Linked DNA regions of Homo sapiens: all the other regions are linked to region 5. Evidence: fine-mapped expression QTL. A gene starts in region 5. Each other region holds a variant in brackets. All regions are shown on one strand. Distances are from middle to middle.

Region 1 (4,116 bases), 86 kb before region 5:
TACCATTCTGCAATTCCTGAGGACAGGGTCCATGCCCCTGGTGTCTTTGGACTTAAGCTCCTAACATGTCTGGCACACAGTAATCACCTGGGGAATGGTTAGGGCCCTGAATGGGACTGAGAATCCCTCACCCACAGACAATGGAAAGCTGAGGACTTGATTTTTGAATTAGCGGAAGCCTTTTCTGAAGTTCCTGAGATGGGCATTTGAAAGGTGAGAGACCTTCTCAAGTCAGGCTGCCCTCTTCCCAGACACATCAGATCTCAACTCTGAAGAAACAATTCCTCTACCTAATGGGAACCTTGGACAAGGGCCCTGAAACCAAGGAGAGAACATTTCCCTGCAGCCTATTGTTGATAACAGCTATGTACTATGTGCCAGCCACTTCATTTCTTAATTTAATCCAACAATCTTGTAGAGTAGATGTTACTGCACTCATGAAACAAATAAGGAAACTGAGGCTCAAGAGGATTAAGTGGTGGCAGAGACAAGATTTGTACCCAGATCTGGCCCACGTTCAGGACTCCCTTCTGCCTCTCTTGTTGCATCACTGGCTTACTTACAGCAACCGGAATTGCCTGGGAAGCAGCAGAAACTAATTGGTAAGGATGATTGAAGACCATGAGCAATTAAAGGCCTCAAGTTCCTCTTCATCATCCTTGGGTTGCAGGTGTCTGCTGTCCAGCTCAGCAGTGTCTCAGTCAGTGGCAGCCCACATCAGGTGTCTATGATTTGCCACATGCACCTCTGCAGTCCTACCTGCTGGCTTAGAGCTGAGGACTGGCCACTACCTGCTGTTGACTTGGCTGCTGCCTCCTGCCCCAGTTCTAAGCCCAGGGAGATGCATCCTGCCATTTCCCTGGCTGCTACCAGATAAGCTAAGCAGTATGAGGCCAGGGCTCCAGGGAGGGAGGGAAGGAAGCAGTATTTGTTGTCTTCAAAGACGTGTTTTGTGGAAACCCCATCCCACTCTGATAGCAAGAAATTGATCTGTGGTCAAATCAGCCGGTGAAATTCTTCACTCCCTCTTGAAGATGTCACAGGCACCTCTGCAGGAGAGAAGCCTCCCTAGCTTTTAACCCCAGGCTTCCTTAAGGCAACTGGGCTTGGACAGGACCCTTCTTATTTAACATTTAACAACACAAGGGATCAGTGTTCTGAGAAGAGCACACCTGGGCAAACAATGCACCAGGCTCCCAACACGCGCGGAAGGCAGACGTTATGTTCATCTTAAAGGTATTTACAGCTGGCCAGGCACGGTGGCTCATGCCTGTAATCCCAGCACTTTGGGAGACCAAGGCGGGTGAATCATTTGAGGTCAAGAGTTCGAGACCAGCCTGGCCAACATAGTGAAACCCCGTCTCTACTAAAAATACAAAAATTAGCCAGGTGTGGTGGTGGTCGCCTATAATCCCAGCTACTCAGGAAGCTGAGGCAGGGGAATCGCTTGAACCCAGGAGGTGGAGGTTGCAGTGAGCCGAGATCTAGCCACTGCACTCCAGCCTGGGTGACAGAGACTCTGTCTCAAAAAAAAAAAAAAAAAAGTATTAACAGCAAATGGCCACATAGCACTTAATATATACAAGCTCCGTTCTAGTGCTTCACATGATATGAGCTCATTTAATCCTCCCGACAACCCTACGAGGCAGGTATTATCCCCATTTT[A/G]CAGATGGGGAAACTGAGGCTCAGAGAGGTTACTCAAGGACATACAGCTAGTAAGTTGAGAGCCAGGAGTCAAACCCAGGCAGCCTGGCTCCAGAGACTGTGCACCTAGCCGTTATCCTATGTAAAAAAGAGAGGCTCGGTTTTGTATAATAAAATAACTTCCCCAAAGTAACCATCATAGAACCAAGACCATTCATTCATTCACCCCGTCATTCATTTACTCAAACAAGAATCACTGAGCAGAAACCGCAGGCCAGACCTAGTGCTGGCCACCCAGAGACCAAGGAAGAACAAGGTGCAGCCTTGCTGTGGACCTGCCGGCTGCCTGTCCAGGCGCCTCTGACGCCCGCGCTGCTCTTCTCCCCACAGCTTGTCTGGGGACCTGGGGCTCTGCTGTCAGCTTCGCACCCTCCCAGCCGTGGCTTCTCATCTATATCTGATGGGTCAAGGAGGGTGGGCGGGGAGCACCCAGCTTCTCCCCAAGCCCAGGCTCCTTCCTCAGCCCCACAGGGGAGCACTGAGCCCCCCACCAGGTAAGTGCCCCCTCCTCACAGTCGTGTGGTTGCTCCCTGCCTGAGGAACACTCCAGGTGGCAGCCATTAGTCTCAGATTTAGCGGCCTCCTGAGAGGCGGGATGACAGTGGACGATGACGACTCTGAGTCTGTTCTGGGGTTGGAAGGACACACACTGAAGGGCTTGTAACTCCACTCTGAAAGCAGAGTCCCCCGCAATTGTCTCCTAAATTATCTCAGTGATGCTGGGATGAAGAAGTATCCCAAACCACAACACGCAAGCTACCCCACAAAAGACAGAAGAAGGGCTGCAGACTCTGCCCTGTGGAGAAGGTGGTGGGGCTGGGGAGAGGGCGGCTCCCTGGGGCCTGCCCAAGTTTATCCCCTGAATAAACAGGAGGCCACAGCAGACCGGATGGGCTGGTGTCGGGAGACTGGCTGGCCTCCGTGCTCAGTCACAGATGCCTCCTTTGTGCCTCCCCTGCCAGGGCTGGGCTGGGCAAAGGAAAACCAAAGGTGCCCGGCCTCTGGACACGGAGCCACTGTTCCACCCACTTAGGGGAAAACCACGGCCCAGCAACAGCTCTGTGGCTGCAGCCCAGGAGGGCTGAAGGAGCTTCTGTGTTCACGTAGAAACTGGAGAGGCCAGTGCAGTGGGGAGGCAGGCTGCTCATGGGGTGCCCTAAAAAAGAAACCTTTCTTCCAGGCCAGGTCCCCTGTGGTCCCCACTGGATCACAAGGCCACATTCATGGGGTGAAGCCCCCTAGTGCCCCACCAGCCCAGGTTTCAGCCCCAGCTCTGCTATTACTACCTGTAGCTCGTCTAGTCTCTTAGCCTTGGTTTCTTATGTGACCAACAGAGTTAATAGTACACACGAGGCCAGGCACGGTGGCTCACACCTATAATCCCAGCACTTTGGGAGCCCGAGGTGGGTGGATCCCTTGAGGTTAGGAGTTTGAGACCAGCCTGGCCAACATGGTGAAATCCCGTCTCTACTAAAAATACAAACATTAGCTGGGCGTGATGGCACGTGCCTGTAATCCCAGCTACTTGGGAGGCTGAGGCAGGAGAATCACTTGAACCCAGGAGGCAGACATTGCAGTGAGCCAAGATTGCACCACTGCACTCCAGCCTGGGTGACAGAGGAGGACACCGTATCAAAAAAAAAAAAAAAAAAAAAAAAAAAAAAGTTCAGTCGATTCTCATTATTTGCAGTAGTTATGCTCTATGAAGTCACTACAAACACAGAATCGTGAATACTGAACCATTGCCCCTAGGGGAAATACTGGTTCAATTCCTGTGAGCCTCTGATCACAACATTTTCATCAAACGATCAATGCATAACCTTGTTTTAAGCATGTCTCTGTTTAAAGACACTATATTTAATACATATTGTTGATTCATTAACATTGAACTCACTGTAGCTCATGCCTGGGCAAAGCTTATCTAACACTCAGTCGTTATTTTCTCCACAAGGCACGTCCCAGCCTTCTTGCATTTAGGAACACTAGACAGCCTTTGGGGGCCATTTCAAATAGCAAAATCGCCAAAAAAAAAAAAAACCACACAAAAATGCAGAAAACGTGGCACTAACTAGACCGTGAAGAGGACACTTGTTTACAGTATGAGAGCTGAAACAAGAAGGCCGCTTGTCGCCTTGTTTGACCTCAGCTGGGAACATGCACGTTGGGCAACTCACATCTTCACCACCGTGAGAATGTTTGCAAATGATCACAAAGGCTCTGCGAGTATTGATTTTGGTGTTACAAATGAATTTCAGCAAGCAGGCAAATTTGCAAATACAGAATGTGCAAGTAATAAGGACCAACTGTATCTGTGTCACAGGGGTTTTGAGGGATGGCTTGTTAAATGAAAGAATGCACGACGAATGCTTAAGCGTAGCAACAGCTCACATCTTTTTACTGTAACTAGTATTA
Region 2 (4,116 bases), 92 kb before region 5:
ACTTGGGTTTGAATTGAGTCTTATTTCCCAGATGTCTTGGGACAAGTTCTGTTACTTCTCTAAGACTCAATGTCTTCATCTGTAAGATGGGAATGGTACCTCACAGGATGTTGTACACCCTAGCACAGTGACTACACTTAATTTTAGGCACTCCTCAAAGGTGTGGTATGCGATTGAGCCCATGCACCCTGGGCCCACTCTATCTGCCTTCCCATCTCCACCCTGAGACCTTAAGCTCAGCAGTGTCCCAAAAGGTTTTAGGATGTGGCTGAGTCCAGGGGTTCTATCTTGGTTTCCCTTCTTCCCTTCCAAGTCCGATGTTGCCCCTAAGGATTATTAGGCTCAAAGCAGGTCACATGACAGGATCGTCCAGAACCAAGAAAGAAAAGCAGAAACCAAGGGTGATCATCCCTTCTCTGGTCGTGACTCTCTCCCAGAGAAGGTCAATGGAGAAAGTCAGGCCTGTCAAGCCCCCTCCCTGTCCCCACCATGGGCAGCCTGAGCGACATTTCTCAAGAGCTCTATGGAACGGGTGGTATCAGTAGGTCCTTCTTTATTTTTCTCAAAGGTAGTGGAGTGGGGAATGTCTGCAGGTACTTGTCCTTAAAAGCAGAGTGACAGAGAAAGGCCACAGATGCATTGAACACTCCTGGGTTTGAAGCCTGCCCGGTTCCACTTATCAAGGGAAGTCAATGTTTTGGAGCCTCAGTCTCTACCTCTAGAAAATGGAAATAAGACATTTCCTCTTGCAGTTGTGAAGTTTCAATGAAATGATAAAGTGTCTAGTGCAATGCCTAAGATGCTGCAGGTGCTCAATAAATGGCAGTTCCTAGTCACTACCAGCAGCATGAGTGAGCTGCAGTCTGACGCACTGGTTCTGTGCATGGGTGCCGGGGCCAAGGGCCATATCTTGGCTTTACCACCTTGTTGCTAAATGAACGTAGGCAAGTTTAAGTCCCAGTGTCTCAATTTCCTCATCTTTAAATTGGAGATAATAATAGTATGTATTTTAGAACTATTGTGAGGATCAAAATAATCAGGACCAGTAAAATACATAGAACAGAGCCTGGCACAGAGCAGGTAACCAATAAACAGTAGCTATTACTAATGATCATTATGGCAAGAGGCTGAGGGGAACAGAGGTGAGGATTAGAGGCAGCCTGAGGGAAAATTTAGGACCCTGACTTTTGAGGGAAGGGCTAACACTTTCCAGCAGGGTTCAGAGAAGCAATGATAGTCCAGTGGGGGGTGGGGTGGGGATGGTGACTGTATCTGATGGGTGAGATTAGACACAGGATGAATATGGGATCTGAGGGCTCTAACACAGGCTAGGATTCAGTGTCCTTGGTTCAAACGGGGGCTAAGAGTGAGTTAATAGGAAATATAATCCTGCCTTCTGAGCATAGCACCACCTATGAGGATGTGGGGAAGGAAGGTCTTGAGTTAGGTACCCTGGTCTCTTAGCATTACCTGTGAGGTTCCTTTTTTTTTTTAAAGAGACAATGTCAGGCCCGGCGCAGTGGCTCACTCCTGTAATCCCAGCACTTTGGGAGGCCGAGGCGGGCAGATCACCTGAGGTCAGGAATTCGAGACCAGCCTGGCCAACGTG[A/G]CGAAACCCTGTCTCTGCTAAAAATACAAAAATTAGCTGGGTGTAGTGGCGAGCGCTTGTAATCCCAGACACTCTGGAGGCTGAGGCAGGAGAATCACTTGAACCTGAGAGGTGGAGGTTGCAGTGAGCCAAGATTGTGCCACTGCACTCCAGCCTAGGTGACAGAGGAAGACTGTCTCAAAAAAAAAAAAAAAAAAAGATAAGATCTTGCTCTGTTGCCTAGGCTGAAGTGCCGTGGCACAATCATAGCTCACTGTAGCCTCAAACTCCTGGGCTCAAGCAATCCCCCCACCTCAGCTTCCCAAAATGCTGGGATTACAGGCATGAGCCACCATGCCTGGCCTCTCTGTGTCTATTTTCTTTCGCTGCCACCATGCAAGAGTTAGCTCAACATTGGATGGTGTAAAGAAGCAACATTCTGCACATGTTTGGGGCCATGTGGAACGACTGGCTAAATATATATATATATGGTTTCATGATCATTATTTTGAGAAAAGAACCCTTCTGAACATTACCTAATGTTAACATTAGCCAAGCAACTGATGCCAACCAATATTAGCCAAGTGAACAAACAACAGCTGACATAAATAGTATTGGAGCTAAAACAAAAAGTCTGGCAAGTTGTTCTCAAACTGAGTTTGTTGGAACCCTCAGGGTTCTGTGGAGACTTCGCAAAAGGGAAGATGTGCTCCAGGGGAACCACAAAAATAGCTCCACTTCTGTCTGCTGTACATGCTGTCTTCTGTATGAAACTTCATGTGAATAAAGGGTTCTATGGCTTTAAAAATATTTAAAATCACTGGTATAGTATAACCATTTCCCAGACAGGGGAATGAGCCCCAGAGGTGGGAAATGGCATCTCCCCTCACAAGTAGCACACTCAGTTAGTGGTGGAGCCAGGAGTAGAGCCAGGTTGCATTACTCTCAGTCTAGTGCTCTCCAAGGTGGACACCAGTCATTAATCAGGACTGTGAGCATCAGTCAAACCTGGTCCATCTTAGCAGGGCTTGATTCTGTCAACGCACACACAGAGGACATTCTTTCTTTACTTTTTTTTTTTTTTTTTTTTTTTTTTTTGAGATGCAGTCTCACTCTGTCACCCGGGCTGGAATGCAATGGCATGATCTCGGCTCACTGCAAACTCCGCCTCCAGGGTTCAAGCGATTCTCCTGCCTCAGCCTCCTGAGTAGCTGGGACTATAGGCGCATGACACCACGCCTGGCTAATTTTTGTATTTTTAGTAGAGACGGGGTTTCACCATGTTGGTCAGGATAGCCTCGAACTCCTGATCCCGTGATCCGCCCGCCTCGGCCTCCCAAAGTGCTGGGATTATGGGTGTGAGCCACTGCCCCCGGCCAGAGGACATTATTTCTGCCCAGCTGGGGCTCTATGTGTGGAAAAGCCCCCCTGGCAGCTGGCTAGGACTTTACCACAAGTACTTGTCCTCTCTCACCTCTCTCTCAGAGGTCCATTGACTCCACGCTCAGGAAGTTCAGCTACAACTCTTAAATCTCAGCTTTCATCCCAGGTGGTAAATTCAGTATTTGATGACTTAAGCAGTGGCTTAGGGAAGGGACTACCAAGCAAATAGGCAGGACTCTGAGACTGCAGAGGCCTCTTGACCCCAAAGGAAAGTCATTCCTAATTTTTTTTCTTTTCTTTTTTTTTTCTTTTTTTTTCTTTTAGAGTCTCCCTCTGTCGCCCAAGCTGGAGTGCAGTGGTGCGATCTTTGCTCACTGCAACCTCTGTCTCCTGGGTTCAGGTGATTCTTGTGCCTCCGCCTCCTGAGTAACTGAGATTACAGGCATATGCCACCACACTTAGCTAACTTTTTGTATTTTTAGTAGAGATGGGGTTTTGCTATGTTGGCCAGGCTAGTCTTGAACTGGCCTCAAGTGATCTGCCTGCCTCGGCCTCCCAAAGTGCTGGGATTACAGGCGTGAGCCACCGCACCTGGCCCCCAATTTTTTATTTAGAAAAAAAATGGGAATGACTCTTGGATCCAAAAGCCCTCTCTCGCCAGTGGGGATGTGTCTAGGGGTCTGCACTAAGCTGGCATCTTCTCTGACCACTCCTTCCTCTGCCTCTTCCCACCAAACCCAGTGAAGATGCAGGAGGCCTGGGTTCTGGGCTCTCCCTAACTTTTTGGGCCTCAGACTCCTCCCCTGGAAGAGCTTTTAGCTGGACAGCACATCTTTAGGTCTCTTCCAATTCTGCAACTCTGTGCCAGCCCAGGAGAGGATCTTGGACTGTGGAAACAAGGTGTTTCCCTTGGCAAACACTCCGGTGTTGGTGACTGTCCACTGGCCGGGATGATTTCACCAGCCTGCCCCCGGGGCTGGGTTCTCTTGTAACATCTGGCTGGATGCTGTGCAGACGGGGTGGGACCTGGTCTTATTGACTCTGGAGCCCAGGTTGAGTCTTCAGAAGCTCCAAGCTCTATTTGTGTCAACCTGTGCATGTATAAACAATGGGTTTTCTTACTCATTCAAGCTCAACGAAAGGGG
Region 3 (4,116 bases), 110 kb before region 5:
ACACACGCAAAGGAAAGACCATGTGACGACACAGGGAGAAGATGGCTGTCTGCAAGCCAAGGAGAGAGGACTCAGAAGAAACCAAGCCTGCTGACACCTTGATGCTAGACTTCAGCCTCCAGAATTGTGATAAAACACACTTTGGTTGTTTACGCCACGCAGTCTGTGGTCCTTTGCTATGACAGCCGTAGCAGACCAATAGACCAATATACCAATATCCCTTCTCCTCCCCTAGGAAGGCTTCATGGAAACCCCAACCCAAGCTCAGTCTGGATTTTTCGCCCACCTTCTCACCCTGATAACAAAAGAGAACTTTTTAAAGGTCAATTCAATTCAACCTTTATTTTTTTATTTTTTGAGATACAGTCTTGCTCTGTCACCCAGGCTGGAGTACAGTGGCACAATCTCAGCTCACTGCAACCTCTGTCTCTTGGGTTCAAGCAATTCTCCTGCCTCAGCCTCCCAAGTAGCTGGGATTACAGGTGCCCACCAGCACGCCCAGCTAATTTTTGTATTTTTAGTAGAGATGGGGTTTCACCATATTGGCCAGGCTGGTCTTGAACTCCTGACCTCAAGTGATCTACCTACCTCAGCTTCCCAAAGTGCTAGGATTACAGGTGTGAGCCACCTCGCCCAGCCAATTCAACCTTTAAAGAGAACTACAGATGGTCCTCAACTTACAATGGTTTGACTTACAATTTTTTTTTTTTTTGAGACAAGGTATCGCTCTGTCAACCAGGCCAGAGTGCGATGGCACCATCTCAGCTCACTGCAACACCCCCCTCCTGGGTTCAAGTGATTCTCCTGCCTCAGCCTCCCAAATAGCTGGGATTACAGGTGCCCACCACCACGCCTGGCTAATTTTTGTATTTTCAGTACAGATGGGGTTTTGGCATGTTGTCCAGGCTAGTCTCAAACTCCTGGCCTCAAGTGATGCAGCCAGCCACCTTGGCCTCCCAACGTGCTGGGATTACAGGCCACCGTGAGCCACTATGCCCGGGCTCACTTTGATTTTTCAACTGTATGATGGTGCAAAGTGATCCACAGTCAGTAGAAGTCATACTTCAAGTACCCATAAGAGCATTGTCTTTCACTTTCAGCATAGTACTTAATAAATTGCGTGGGATGGGCTGGGTGCGGTGGATTACACCCAGCACTTTGGGAGGCCGAGGCGGGCGGATCACGAGGTCAGGAGATTGAGACCATGGTGAAACCCCATCTCTACTAAAAATACAAAAAATTAGCTGGGCGTGGTGGCGGGCGCCTGTAGTCCCAGCTACTTGGGAGGCTGAGGCAGGAGAATGGCGTGAACCCGGAAGGCGGAGCTTGCAGTGAGCCGAGATCGCGCCACTGCACTCCATCCTGGGCAACAGAGCCAGACTCCATCTCAAAGAAAAACCAAACCAAACCAAATCAAACAAAACAACAACAACAAAAAATAAATTGCGTGGGACATAAAACACTTTATTGTAAAACAAGCTCTGTGTTAGATGATTTTGCCCAACTGTAGGCTAAAGTAAGTGTTTGGGCACATTTAAGGTAGCCTAGGCTAAGCTATGGTGTTTGGTAGGTGAGATGTATTAAACGCATTTTTTTCTTTTTTTTTTTTTAACTTATGATACTTCCAATATACAATGGGTTTATCAGGACGTAACCCCATCAAGGAGCATCTGTAACTGGATTTCCAGAACCTACTCAAGAGACTCAGGGATTTATTTTTGGTCTGTCCTAAAAAAAAAAAAAAGTTGTATTCTCTTATTCTCTTTCACGATTAGTTTGAAATACTGCTACTTCTTAAGAGATGATATTTTGTTGAAATCAAAGCTTGGTGAATCTATGATTATCAGGATGGCATTCTATAAACACTATATGCCAATCTAAGTAAGTTATTTCCATTTTCTTTTTTTTTTTTTTGAGATGGAGTCTCACTCTGTCACCAGGCTGGAGTGCAGTGGCACGATCTCGGCTCATTGCAACCTCTGCCTCCCGAGTTCAAGCGACTCTCCTGCCTCAGCCTCCTGAGTAGCTGGGACTACAGGCGCGTGCCATCACACCCAGCTAATTTTTGTATTTTTAGTAGAGACGGGGTTTCACCATGTTGGCCAGGATGGTCTCGATCTCTTGACCTCGTGATCTGCCCGCCTCAGCCTCCCAAAGTGCTGGGATTACAGGCATGAGCCACCATGCCCAGCCACTTCCATTTTCTTGTGCATTCTCTCAGTAGTATAAGTATTCTATTTCAATTTCAGAGAAGCATATGCACAGTTCAGAGACGTTAGAATTGCAAAGGCAATTTTTGTTTGCCCAAAACTGTATTTAGTATAGTTATAAGACAAATGTAAAAGGTATTTTACCTACACAGCGATTGCTTTACAAGAGAATAAATCAGCAGTTAGCCCTGGAGCCACAGGCCCTCACACAAGGAGCCTTTTATCCTGGGTCAGGCTGCCTCTGTGACCAGCAGCGCTCAGTAACTGAACAAGATATTACCAGTTTCTCCGTGCCAGACAGTATTTCTGGCTAC[C/T]TGACATCTGGAGCATTTTCCTCCCTCTGTTGTGGTCAGTGTGGGAAGGAGGGCCGCTACTGCCCCCGGGACACGTGGGCACCCTGCTCAGAGGGACGCCAGCTGGCCTGTGACATGGCCCAAACCCGAGCCCCACCCCCGCCACTCCACAGCGGTCTAGAGCTGGTTTGTAACCAAGGTGCAGCTGAATTTAGCTCAGTGAATCATCTCCAAGGAAAACCCACAGAGAAAGTGAACTCACCTTTTAACCAAGTCCTGGATGGGGTGTGACTGTCCCAAGAATGCCCTGGGTCCCAGATCTGAGTGCCCCAGTAAGCCCATTTCCTAAACAAAAAGGGTTTGAAGAGGCTATCTAGCCTACCCTCTGCCCTGCAAACAGAGCCAACGGCCTTGATTTTCAAATGAGAATGTGGACTTCGGAGGCAAACTGTTGGGGATTAAGAAAACAGAACTTAAATTGCTTCCACATCTGGAAAACAAACCCAGCAGCCAGCCCCAAGAATTCCAGGCATGCCAGCTCAAAGAGAAGCTGCAGGTCAGGGGAGGCTTTTCCTCTTAGCTTTCAGTCCCCCATCACCTACCTGAAGCCACAAAGATCTCCTGTCTACAAATAGCTAGTGGAGCCACAACTCAGAGAAAGAGAACAAAGTTGACATACTAGGGCGCCTACCATGTGGCCAGTCTGCTCTGTGCTTTACAGAGGTGGTAAACTCCCTGCAAGTAATTATCATTTTCCTCCTTATAGATGGGGAAATGTGGCCAGGTGCGGTGGCTCATGCCTGTAATCCCAGCACTTTGGGAGGCCGAGACGGGCGGATCACGAGGTCAGGAGATTGAGACCATCCTGGTCAACATGGTGAAACCCCATCTCTACTAAAAAATACAAAAATTAGCTGGACACGGTGGCACGTGCCTGTAATCCCAGCTACTCGGGAGGCGGAGGCAGGAGAATCGCTTGAACCAGGGAGTAGGAGGTTGCAGTGAGCTGAGACTGTGCCACTGTACTCCAGCCTGGCGACAGAGTGAAACTCTATCTAAAAAAAAAGAAGAAAGAAAGGAAGAAGGAAAAGAAAAAGTGGGGGAATGGTGTCCAGAGAGTCTCATCCACTTTCCCCTGAAGTATCCTGCAGTTTTTCTCTTTACTCCCCTTTGGAGTCACACAAAAAGTTGGGGCCATGCAAACCCAAATCAGGAGTTCCCTAATTTAAATCGTCCCATCTAAATTCTCAGAAAAGATTTCCCAAATGCCTACCGGAAGCTCCAGTTCCCATGCAGCCACTGCATCTCTGGTTCCCCCAAGAAAAGCATGGACCAGAGGTCCCAGCAACTCAACTCAAAAGCGAAGTAACGTGCTGCAGTTGAATGGGGTGCGTATAAAGGGCTCTCCTGGTTCTTGGAACGGGCAGCTATTTTTTGCTACAAATTATAGCTTTTCAAGATGTGGCTTTTTGAAGAGAGGGCTTAATTACTCACACAACCAAGAGTCTGTGGGGCTTGCTTTGGGGGCTCCATACTTTACCATCATGATAAGAGGAGCGATGATAAAAACACTTCACTCAAAGTGAAGGTTTGGGAGGGAAAACAGTGGCTCA
Region 4 (4,116 bases), 100 kb before region 5:
GCCCGCGTTGGCCTCCCAAAGTGCTGGGATTACAGGCATGAACCATCGTGCCTGTCCACAAAGGGGTCTTAAACATTTGAGAACAAGGAAAGCACGCATCTGCTAAGCACCTATTGTGTGCCAGGTATTTCTGTGCATCAGCCACTATTTAGATGAGAATACACAGGTTCAAGGAGGTTAAGTAATTCGTGAAAGGTCGCAGGGCTGGGATTTGAACCAGGTCTGATTTTAACGCAGCAAGGAGGGTACAGAGAATACCAAATGCTCTCAGCGATGCGACATCCAGCACCCCATGGACAACACTGTGCACTGGAGTGGACTCAGGCTGACCCTGCAGCCACAGGAATGGCAGTTAGCAACGCTGATGGTACCAGAACTTGGACTTGAGCTGAAGCTTGCAGGGACCACAGCACACTGGGCTTCTGAGGTCTGTGCCATCCAGGCCATCAGGCAGAGCCCTCCTCCCCTTTCCCACCCCAGGGAGCTTCAAAGAGGCTACATGTGGGAAGACTTTACAGAAAGGGAGAGGAGAGATTTGAAAGAAAATTGCTAAAAGGAAACACATGTGAAAATGAAAACTCAGGCAAAGGGGGAGAAGGACGAGGGAAGAAGAGTAATGTCCAAGGATTATAAACTGAGTCAAGAAGCCCTTGGAACACCAGTTTCCCTCTGCTCCCTTGGGAAGGCCAGTGACCCACTCCCAGCCCTCATTTTCCCTCTTAACCCAGATGGAACGGGGCAGACCTTAGATGATACCCAGCAAGAGAAACAGGGAATGTTGCCTTGCACACAGCCATGACAACTGTGGAGCCACGATTCATATGTGGTGGGAGGAAAATCCCGAGGCTCAGAGAGGTCGCTCTACTTTGCCAAGGCCACACAGCTGGCGAGCCATAAAGCTGGAATCTAAGCCCAATCCAAGGTTGTCCCCTTGAACCACATCAGGGTCCCCTCATATAATCTGCCACCACTACAAGGTGGCTCCACCTGCATCCTTGGAGGAACTGGACAAATTATATAAGTTCCCCAGAGGTTACCTAGTTTCTATTTCATTAAATCTGAGACACCTCTGATTTTACAATGCACCGTTATTTCAAGTATGCCAAGAAAAAGGCGCTGTCAAATTATAATAATCCGCAAATGTGCGACACATTCCAATTTAAGATGTTAAATGGAAAAAAAGGAAAGGAAAAAAAGAATGTGCCTTAGAATCCCAGAAAATACCATGTAAGTGTGAGTAGGGAACAGGGATTCAGTCACAGTTCCGCAGACTGTGTGTGTGCAGTGAAGGGCAGTCAACAACTCCACACAAGCACATGAGCACACACCTGCTGCTATAAAATCCTTCTTTGCTAATAACTGATGCAATCGTGCAGATAATCATACAAAAATGTGTTGGCCAGACCTGCCTTGTCAACAAGAACCCTCATTTCACCAGGAGACCATCAATTCAAGGTTGCCTAACATCAGTCAGACGAGTCAAGCATGGTGGCTCATGCCTGTAATTCCAGCACTTTGGGAGGCCAAGGTGGAAGGATTGCTTGCGCCTAGAAGTTTGAGACCAGCATGGGTGACATAGTGAGACCTCATCTCTACCAAATGAATAAATAGCCGGGAGTGGTGGTGCACCCAGCTACTCAGGCAGCTGAGGTGGGAGGATCACTTGAGCCCAGGAGGTCGAGGCTACAGTGAGCCAAGATTGTATCGCTGCACTCTAGCCTGGGCAGAAATGCGAAACCCTGTCTCAAAAAAAAAAAAAAAAAAAAAAAAAATCAGTCAAGTGGAGGCTGTCCTGCCCACCTAACCAGCCAGGCTAGGCCAGGCTAGCCAGCTTCGCCTGAGTGGAGCTATAGACCTCTGGGCAGCCAAGCTGGATGACTCTGTGGTTAACTACCAAGGGCAGTCACCCAGTGTGGCTGGGCGGTGGCACAGCCTGCACCTTTTTGTCTGGCTTTTCTCCAAATCTCCTGGGGCTTGTGGCCAGCCAGAGCCTCAGCATTTTAATAAGGCAGATGCTGGGGGCTGGCAGTGGCAGATGGGCAGCACTGCTCCAAGCCAGCTTTTCCAGCTAGGCACAGGTGGATGGACAGGCAGGCCCTGGCTGGAGGTGAAGGGCAGGTGGGCCGAGGTGTGGAGGGCCATCCTCCCCTTGGCAGGCCAGCCACAGCCTGGCAGTGTGAGCAGCCTCTGGAAGGACAGGCTAGGTACAGTCTCCCTCACTGAACCTGGGGAGAAGTCTGTTACCTCGGAAGCTGCTTGACATCTCATTCACAGACTGCCACACAAATGCTAGTCACTTCACCCCAGACCCAGAATCTGTATCTGCAGAGCCCGAGCAAGGTTTGTTAAAAACACAGAAGCTGGCTGGGTGCAGAGGCTCATGCCTGTAATCCCAGCACTTTGGGGGGCCGCGGTGGGAGGATCACCTGAGGGCAGGAATTCGAGATCAGCCTGGGTAACATAGTAACACCTCATTTCTACTTTTTTTTT[A/TA]AAAAAATTAAAATTAAAATTGAAAAAAAAGATTTAAAAACCCACAGAAGCTGAGGAAGTAGAGTTTTGCTTCTCTTGCAAAGGCCCTTGAGTAATGGAGTTTTTCCGCTGCCACCTTCCTGTTTGGGCCATGACACTCCCCGGCAAGACATTCTGTTAGGTGCGAAGGTTATTAGTCACAACAATCAAACCAGCTGAAGCCTGCAGGAACTAAGAATAACAGCTCACCCCAAAGCACAGTTTTAAGTGCTTTTCATACATTTACATATTTGAGCCTTACCACGAACCCTGTGAGGGAGGTACTAGCCTCATCCTCTTACCACGAACCCTGTGAGGGAGGTACTAGCCTCATCCTCGTTTTACAGGTGGGGAAGCTGAGGCACAGAGAAATTAAATAACTTGTCTAAGATTCCACCAATAGCAAGGGGCAGAGCCAGGATCTGAACCCAGAGACAGCCTGACTCTGAAGGCATTTTGGTACTAAACTGGCCTGCCTCTCTAACCATCTAACCGTCCACGAGTGTCAACTAAGTAAAGGCCAGAACCTAGACTGGGCATCTTAAATCACCATGGCTCATTTTATTTTCACCATCACCCTGCGAGGCAGGTGCTATTATCAACCCCATTCTACCTGTTGGGCACCCCAACCCTCAGCCACCCCAAAGCAGGGGGGTGGATGAACAGGATGCCCCATCTGAATGCTGCCTGACACGCAAACACACACGTGTGTGCACACACACATATACGATCTGGGGCCCTAAACTGGACAGACTAAACCCAAAGCTGCTGCCCAAATGTGGGAGTGACTCCCTGGGGTCCTTAGGACCCCACAGAACCATGCTGCTGCCTGCCCACAGGCAGAGGGAGTGAAGAGTGAGGCCAGGGAAAGTGAAATCAGAAGGGTGAGGTCGCCTGTCCAAAGTTCCACAACTAGCGAGCAACAGAGCCAGGATCTAGACCTAGAAGTTTTCTGGCGCCCATTTTTTCTCCTTAAGGAAACAGGCATTGGGTGACAAAGCGTGGGATGCAGGTGTCTGTGTCTTAGGTAGGCATTTCTTCCAGGAAAACGAGGGAGCAGGGGGCAGGGACTTGCTGCTATTCTCGCTCCTATTCTAGGAGGGAGACTTGAGTCTGGTGCAGAGGGTAGACACCCCTCAGCTCCCTTACCCCAAGTTCACCGGAGCAGCAGCAGCTATTTGAAATGTGGGTTCCCTTTCCATGGTATCAGGCTTGCACAGCGCAGGGGGGTGGGGGGTGACCACAGATGACTAAAGAGAGAGAGCCCGCCCACTCTCCCACACTCCAGTTCTGTTTAGGCCTTCCTCTTTCTGGTACCTCAAAAGAGAAAGGCTCCCATGAGCAGAGCCACAGATATTAATAACTTCTACAGAGCTTTGTTTTCATCTGAATTAATGTTTACATTGTTGGGAAAGAACCCACTTGTCTGGGAAGATGAAGCAGGTTAGATCAATTAAAAATGTGACCAACAGTTGGAAAACTTCCCATTTCTTAAGGTCAGTCAAGAAGTGGGTTTGGAAGTGCTGGCATGACTAGCACTGGCCTGCTGGGCGGTTCTGGGCTGGAGGTCACTCAGACCCCACAGCTCTGGGCCATCACAGCCACCCC
Region 5 (4,116 bases):
AGGTCTGTCTCTAGAGTGTATGAGGGAGAAGGTTCTAATGGCAGGAACTGTCCAGCTGGGGGAGAAGTGGGTGAGGCTTGCTGGGCACGTGGCTGAGGCCGGTGGCCCCTGCCAGAGGTTGTTGGGAGGCCCTTCCCACTACTGAGGCTCTGAGTTCGGGGACTCCAGGTTTCAGCCAGAGCTGGTAGCTTCTTTACCCGACCTGCAGTCTGTGTTCTGAGAGGAAGGAGCGCGACTATCCCCATGCCAGGAGTCTGCTCAGCCTGCCCCAGATGGGAGCCACTGGAAAAACGGAAGGGCTTGGCTGGCCTTTGGGGAAGAAGGGTCATGGTGGCAGCAGGCAGTGTCCCTCAGCAAAGCCCCGCAGAGGGCAGTCTGGGCTCTCACAGGCACTGCAGTGGTCTTTCCTGTGGTGGGTACCTGAGTTCTCAAGCCCTGAAGCTGCCTCACTCTCTTCTGCCCACAGCTCTCAGCGACTCACAAGTCCCGGCCCATGCCCAGGTGCGGGTGGAGAGATGATTCTCAATCGCCTCCCACTCTCTGGTGACGCAGAGGCACGGGCCCAACCTGGCCATCACCCAGCTTCTCCCATGTTCTGAAATGCCTGGTCCGACCTGTTCTGGGAACACAATGCCAGCCAGTGCCCATTTGAGGCCCATGGCCCCAGGCCCCCCATGCAGGGCCTGAGGCCTTAGATGGCCTTGGAAACCCACTTCTCAGGGCTTTTGGCTCCAGGGGAAACCCCTGACCATTTCAGCCAGGTGGGTGTCTTGTCCTCCCCTTGAGACACAGTCCCCAGTCCCCATGCCGGTGGCACCAGAGGACACTGGTGTAGTGTGCGTTTAGTGATATGACTCCGTCCACCCTACTGGCGGCACCGACCCTCCGCTTCCAGCCCTGTTAACAATCTACGTAAGTCCTGCTTTCCCCAAATAGATGCGGCCCCGCCACATGAAAGCCCTCTGCTCAGCCACCACTCCCCGAGCCTGGCTTTGCCTGGCCTGCTGCAACCAACACAGCCAGCTGCCAGCCTGGCTGCCCAGCAGAGCCTGAATGAGAGGTCACCCGACACTGGCCCGGGAGTACACGGTGGCCCCAGCAGACACCTCCTTCCGTGTCTGGGCAGGGTGTGTGCAGCCGAGGAGCCAAGGCTGCAGAGCACCCCTACCGGTCCCTTTCACCCCCTGGCCCGGCCCAGCAGGACGTACACAGACCCTTGCATCTTGGTCTCCGCAGCGCCGGGTGGGGTGGGGAGCCTAGGGCCGGATTCTGGCAGCTCTCTCCCCCAGACAAGGGTGGATGTGCAGACCGCTCAGAAGGACCTGCATGGCCGAGGAAGGAAGGTGGGCGCAGAAGCCACCCTAGGCGTGACGCGTGACGCTCGGGGCACGGGCGCCGGGGGGCGGAAAGCGAGGGCCCGGCTGGGCCAGGGATACCCGGGGGGGGCCGAGGTCCTGGGCTCCGGCGGAGGGAGGGGATTGGGAGGGAGGCCACCGCCTCGGGCCACGCGGGTGACCCGGCGGGGGAGCTGGGGGAGGGGCGGCGGGGCTGGGCTGGGGTCCCCGGGCCGGGACTGGGGTCGGGCCAGCTTACCTCCTCGCCCTGGCCGAAGCGCAGTCCGAGCGCCGCGACGCGCTCCACGCGCAGGAAGCCGTCGGGGTCGCGGCCGCACACCTCGAACACCTCGCGCAGGCGGCGCACGGAGCGCAGCAGAGCCGCGGGGGCGCCCGACCAGCCCGCGCCGCCCGCCATCCGGGCCGGCCCGCAGCTCAGCCCGGACCCCTCGCCCGCCGCGCCCGCCGCCTGCCCGCCGCCGCCATCGCCGCGCGCCCTCCGGGGCCGCCCGTCTGGGTCTGCGCCGCGCAGCCTCCGCCCGGTGGCGGCCGCGGCCGATCCGTGTCAGCAGCGGCGCCGCAGCCCCAGCCGCTCCGGAGGGGAAGGGAGGGGAGGGGAGGGAAGGAGAAGAGTGGGGAGGGGAAGGAGGAGGGGCAATAGGGGGCGGGGAGGGGAGGGGCGGGGGCCGCGGCGAAAATGGGAGGGAGAGGGGGAGGCGGCGGGGGCGGCGGCGGCGGGGACGCTGCAGACAAAAGGAGCCCGCGTCCTCCCGAGTGGGGCGGCCCACGCGGGGCCGGCAGGCGCAGCGAGCTGCCAACGGCCGCGTCCTCCGCGACCTCAGTTTCCCTCCGCGTCCCCAGTTTCCCTCCGCGTCCCCGAGCCCACCCCTTCCTCTGGACACCCGGAGCCACCCAAAGGCCCTGCCCTGCCGGAGGATTCCGCGGGGTCGCGCCCCTTTCCGCTATCCGTGCCCGCTGCCGCGCCTGGCGTCTCCCGAGCGCTCAGGATGTCCTGGGGGCCTCCTGCATTGGCGCGTTCCGTGACTGCATTCATCCCGGAGGAAGCTGAGGCCCAGAGAGGTCGGACTCACTCTAGGCCACACAGCTGGCAAGAGGCAGGGCCGGGATTCGCTGCCATCTCTGGAGGGCTCTGGACTCCGTTCTTCACCTCCGCCCTGCGGTCTCCCGGCGCTCTCCTGCAAGACAGCACTTGTGGGGCCATCGGGCGGGGGAGGGCACAGAGAGGAGGAGCAGGCAACTGAACCCCAGCCTGGACCCGGGACCCTGCGACGGGGAGATGAGGAGAAAACCAGGATGAGGCCGGAGGGAGGAAAAGCGAGGCGCTTCCAGAGGCCTGCCTGTTCAGGGCCCAAGGCTGCTCCACGCCTGGAAGAGGCTTCCTCCCTTTCGCCGGGTTCCCACCATCACACCTCCCTGGCAGCCCGCATGCCCCAAGCTCAGAGAATCCAGGACAGAATCTCTGTCCCGCTGGCCGCAGGCTCTAGGTCAGGACCCTGGCCTCCTCCCATTAGTGCTCAGCGGAGCCTCCACCCCAGCTTGTGCTAACTTCCCAGCCCAGCCTCGGGGCCCTGCAGGACCCGGCCGGGCTCTTCTCTCCACCTTCTTGCTCGGCACATCAGGTCTTTGTGGCAACGACTGGCCCCAACCCAAAAAAAGGCCTTGGCTGAGTCTACTCCCACCTATGCTGTCATGCTCAGCACAGAGGTTTCCTCCTCCGGGAAGGCTTCTCTGATGGCACGCCATCTTATCTTCTATTCTGAGTTCTAAGCCCTTCTTCCAGGTGCCCAGTTAATTCTTAATTCTCTAGTGGGATGCCCATTTCCCCTACCATGCTGGGAAGCCCTCCAGGGCAAGATATGTCTTAATTACCTTCAAGTCCCTGATCTCCAGGCAAGAGTGGGCCCAGAGGAAGCCCCACCCAGAGGGGATGGGCCCGCCCATTATGTGAGGAGCCGGGAGCAACGTAGTGGCGCAGACAGGGAGTACGGGGTGAACTGCATGGCCTCCCCTAGCTGGGCCTCGGTTTGTACCTCTGTGGTCTTCCTGCTCAACCCTGAATATATCCTGCGCAGGGACTGCCATTTGCCTTCTGACAGTGGGCGGGGACCTCTTCTTTCCAGCCCCGGCTCCTGGGATGAACCTGGCTTTTAGCTACTCTCCTTTGACCCTTCAGTTCGTCTGAGAGCCACGAAAGGCAACACCTCTTGGGAAGAGAGACCTGTGGTTCTGAGGATTGAGGAGTCCGAAATGTGAGAAAGCGGGAAAGGGGAGGCCGTGGGAGTGGAGTAGGGGTATTCGGCTGAGTAGGAGCGTCTCTGCTAGCTGGATGCCGCTCAGCAGGATACTAGCATATTTTAGCCGGTTTCCTCGCCTGTACCGTGAGGATAATAGTACCTTCCTTTTAGGGCAACTGAAGATGAGAGCGAATCTAAGCAATGCTGCTTTCCCCCGACCTACCCTGCAAAATGGAGGTGGAAGTGGAGAATAAGGACAAGCAGCTGGCTGGGAGAGACTGGCTGCTGGAGATCCAGCCAGCCCCCTGGCAAGGAGGTAGGGAGTGGAAGCTGGGGGCTGCTGCCTGCCCCTGGGACCCCGATATTAGTTCGTCCAAGGTCAGCTCGTGCCATTTTCTCTCACCCAAGGGGCTCAGCACAGAAAGGAGATGGCCAGGAGCTGGGGCTGCCCCCTGGTGGGGGCTGCAGAAATGGCTCTCCGCGCTCAGCCTGGCATTGAATGCCCCCTAACTGGGGACAGGGGAGCT

Alleles and levels. Positions count from the first base shown, and alleles are read on the strand shown. Sizes are in standard deviations (SD) of each study's normalised expression. Not every link is listed here.
For the expression in thyroid of the gene that starts at base 1,930 in region 5, T is the high allele of the variant in region 3 and C is the other (small effect, 0.20 SD a copy in GTEx).

What was found. PIP is the estimated chance that this variant, and not a neighbour inherited with it, causes the effect. A credible set is the group of variants that fine-mapping cannot tell apart.
Region 1: its variant is the best candidate, but not a certain one, in a credible set for the expression of RAB11FIP4 in blood mononuclear cells (TOPMed, PIP 0.61).
Region 2: its variant is the best candidate, but not a certain one, in a credible set for the expression of RAB11FIP4 in whole blood (Lepik 2017, PIP 0.71).
Region 3: its variant is the best candidate, but not a certain one, in a credible set for the expression of RAB11FIP4 in thyroid (GTEx, PIP 0.86).
Region 4: its variant is the best candidate, but not a certain one, in a credible set for the expression of RAB11FIP4 in whole blood (INTERVAL, PIP 0.79).

What each region holds. Positions count from the first base shown.
Region 1 is chr17:31,475,425-31,479,540 of GRCh38, reverse strand. The region is part of intron 3 of RAB11FIP4 (RAB11 family interacting protein 4); the gene reads right to left. Among named protein-coding and RNA genes, the nearest start is that of MIR4724, 57 kb to the left of the region's middle. RefSeq lists an enhancer at 2,398-3,214. The variant A/G (reference allele first, on the strand shown) is at 1,666.
Region 2 is chr17:31,481,763-31,485,878 of GRCh38, reverse strand. The region is part of intron 3 of RAB11FIP4 (RAB11 family interacting protein 4); the gene reads right to left. Among named protein-coding and RNA genes, the nearest start is that of MIR4724, 51 kb to the left of the region's middle. The variant A/G (reference allele first, on the strand shown) is at 1,610.
Region 3 is chr17:31,498,820-31,502,935 of GRCh38, reverse strand. The region is part of intron 3 of RAB11FIP4 (RAB11 family interacting protein 4); the gene reads right to left. Among named protein-coding and RNA genes, the nearest start is that of MIR4724, 34 kb to the left of the region's middle. RefSeq lists enhancers at 2,102-3,061, 3,062-4,023. The variant C/T (reference allele first, on the strand shown) is at 2,525.
Region 4 is chr17:31,493,023-31,497,138 of GRCh38, reverse strand. The region is part of intron 3 of RAB11FIP4 (RAB11 family interacting protein 4); the gene reads right to left. Among named protein-coding and RNA genes, the nearest start is that of MIR4724, 40 kb to the left of the region's middle. The variant A/TA (reference allele first, on the strand shown) is at 2,491.
Region 5 is chr17:31,389,489-31,393,604 of GRCh38, reverse strand. It overlaps RAB11FIP4 (RAB11 family interacting protein 4), which reads right to left and starts at 1,930. Exons shown (of 15, transcript NM_032932.6): 1 at 1,594-1,930. The coding sequence starts at 1,752. RefSeq lists an enhancer at 2,126-2,715.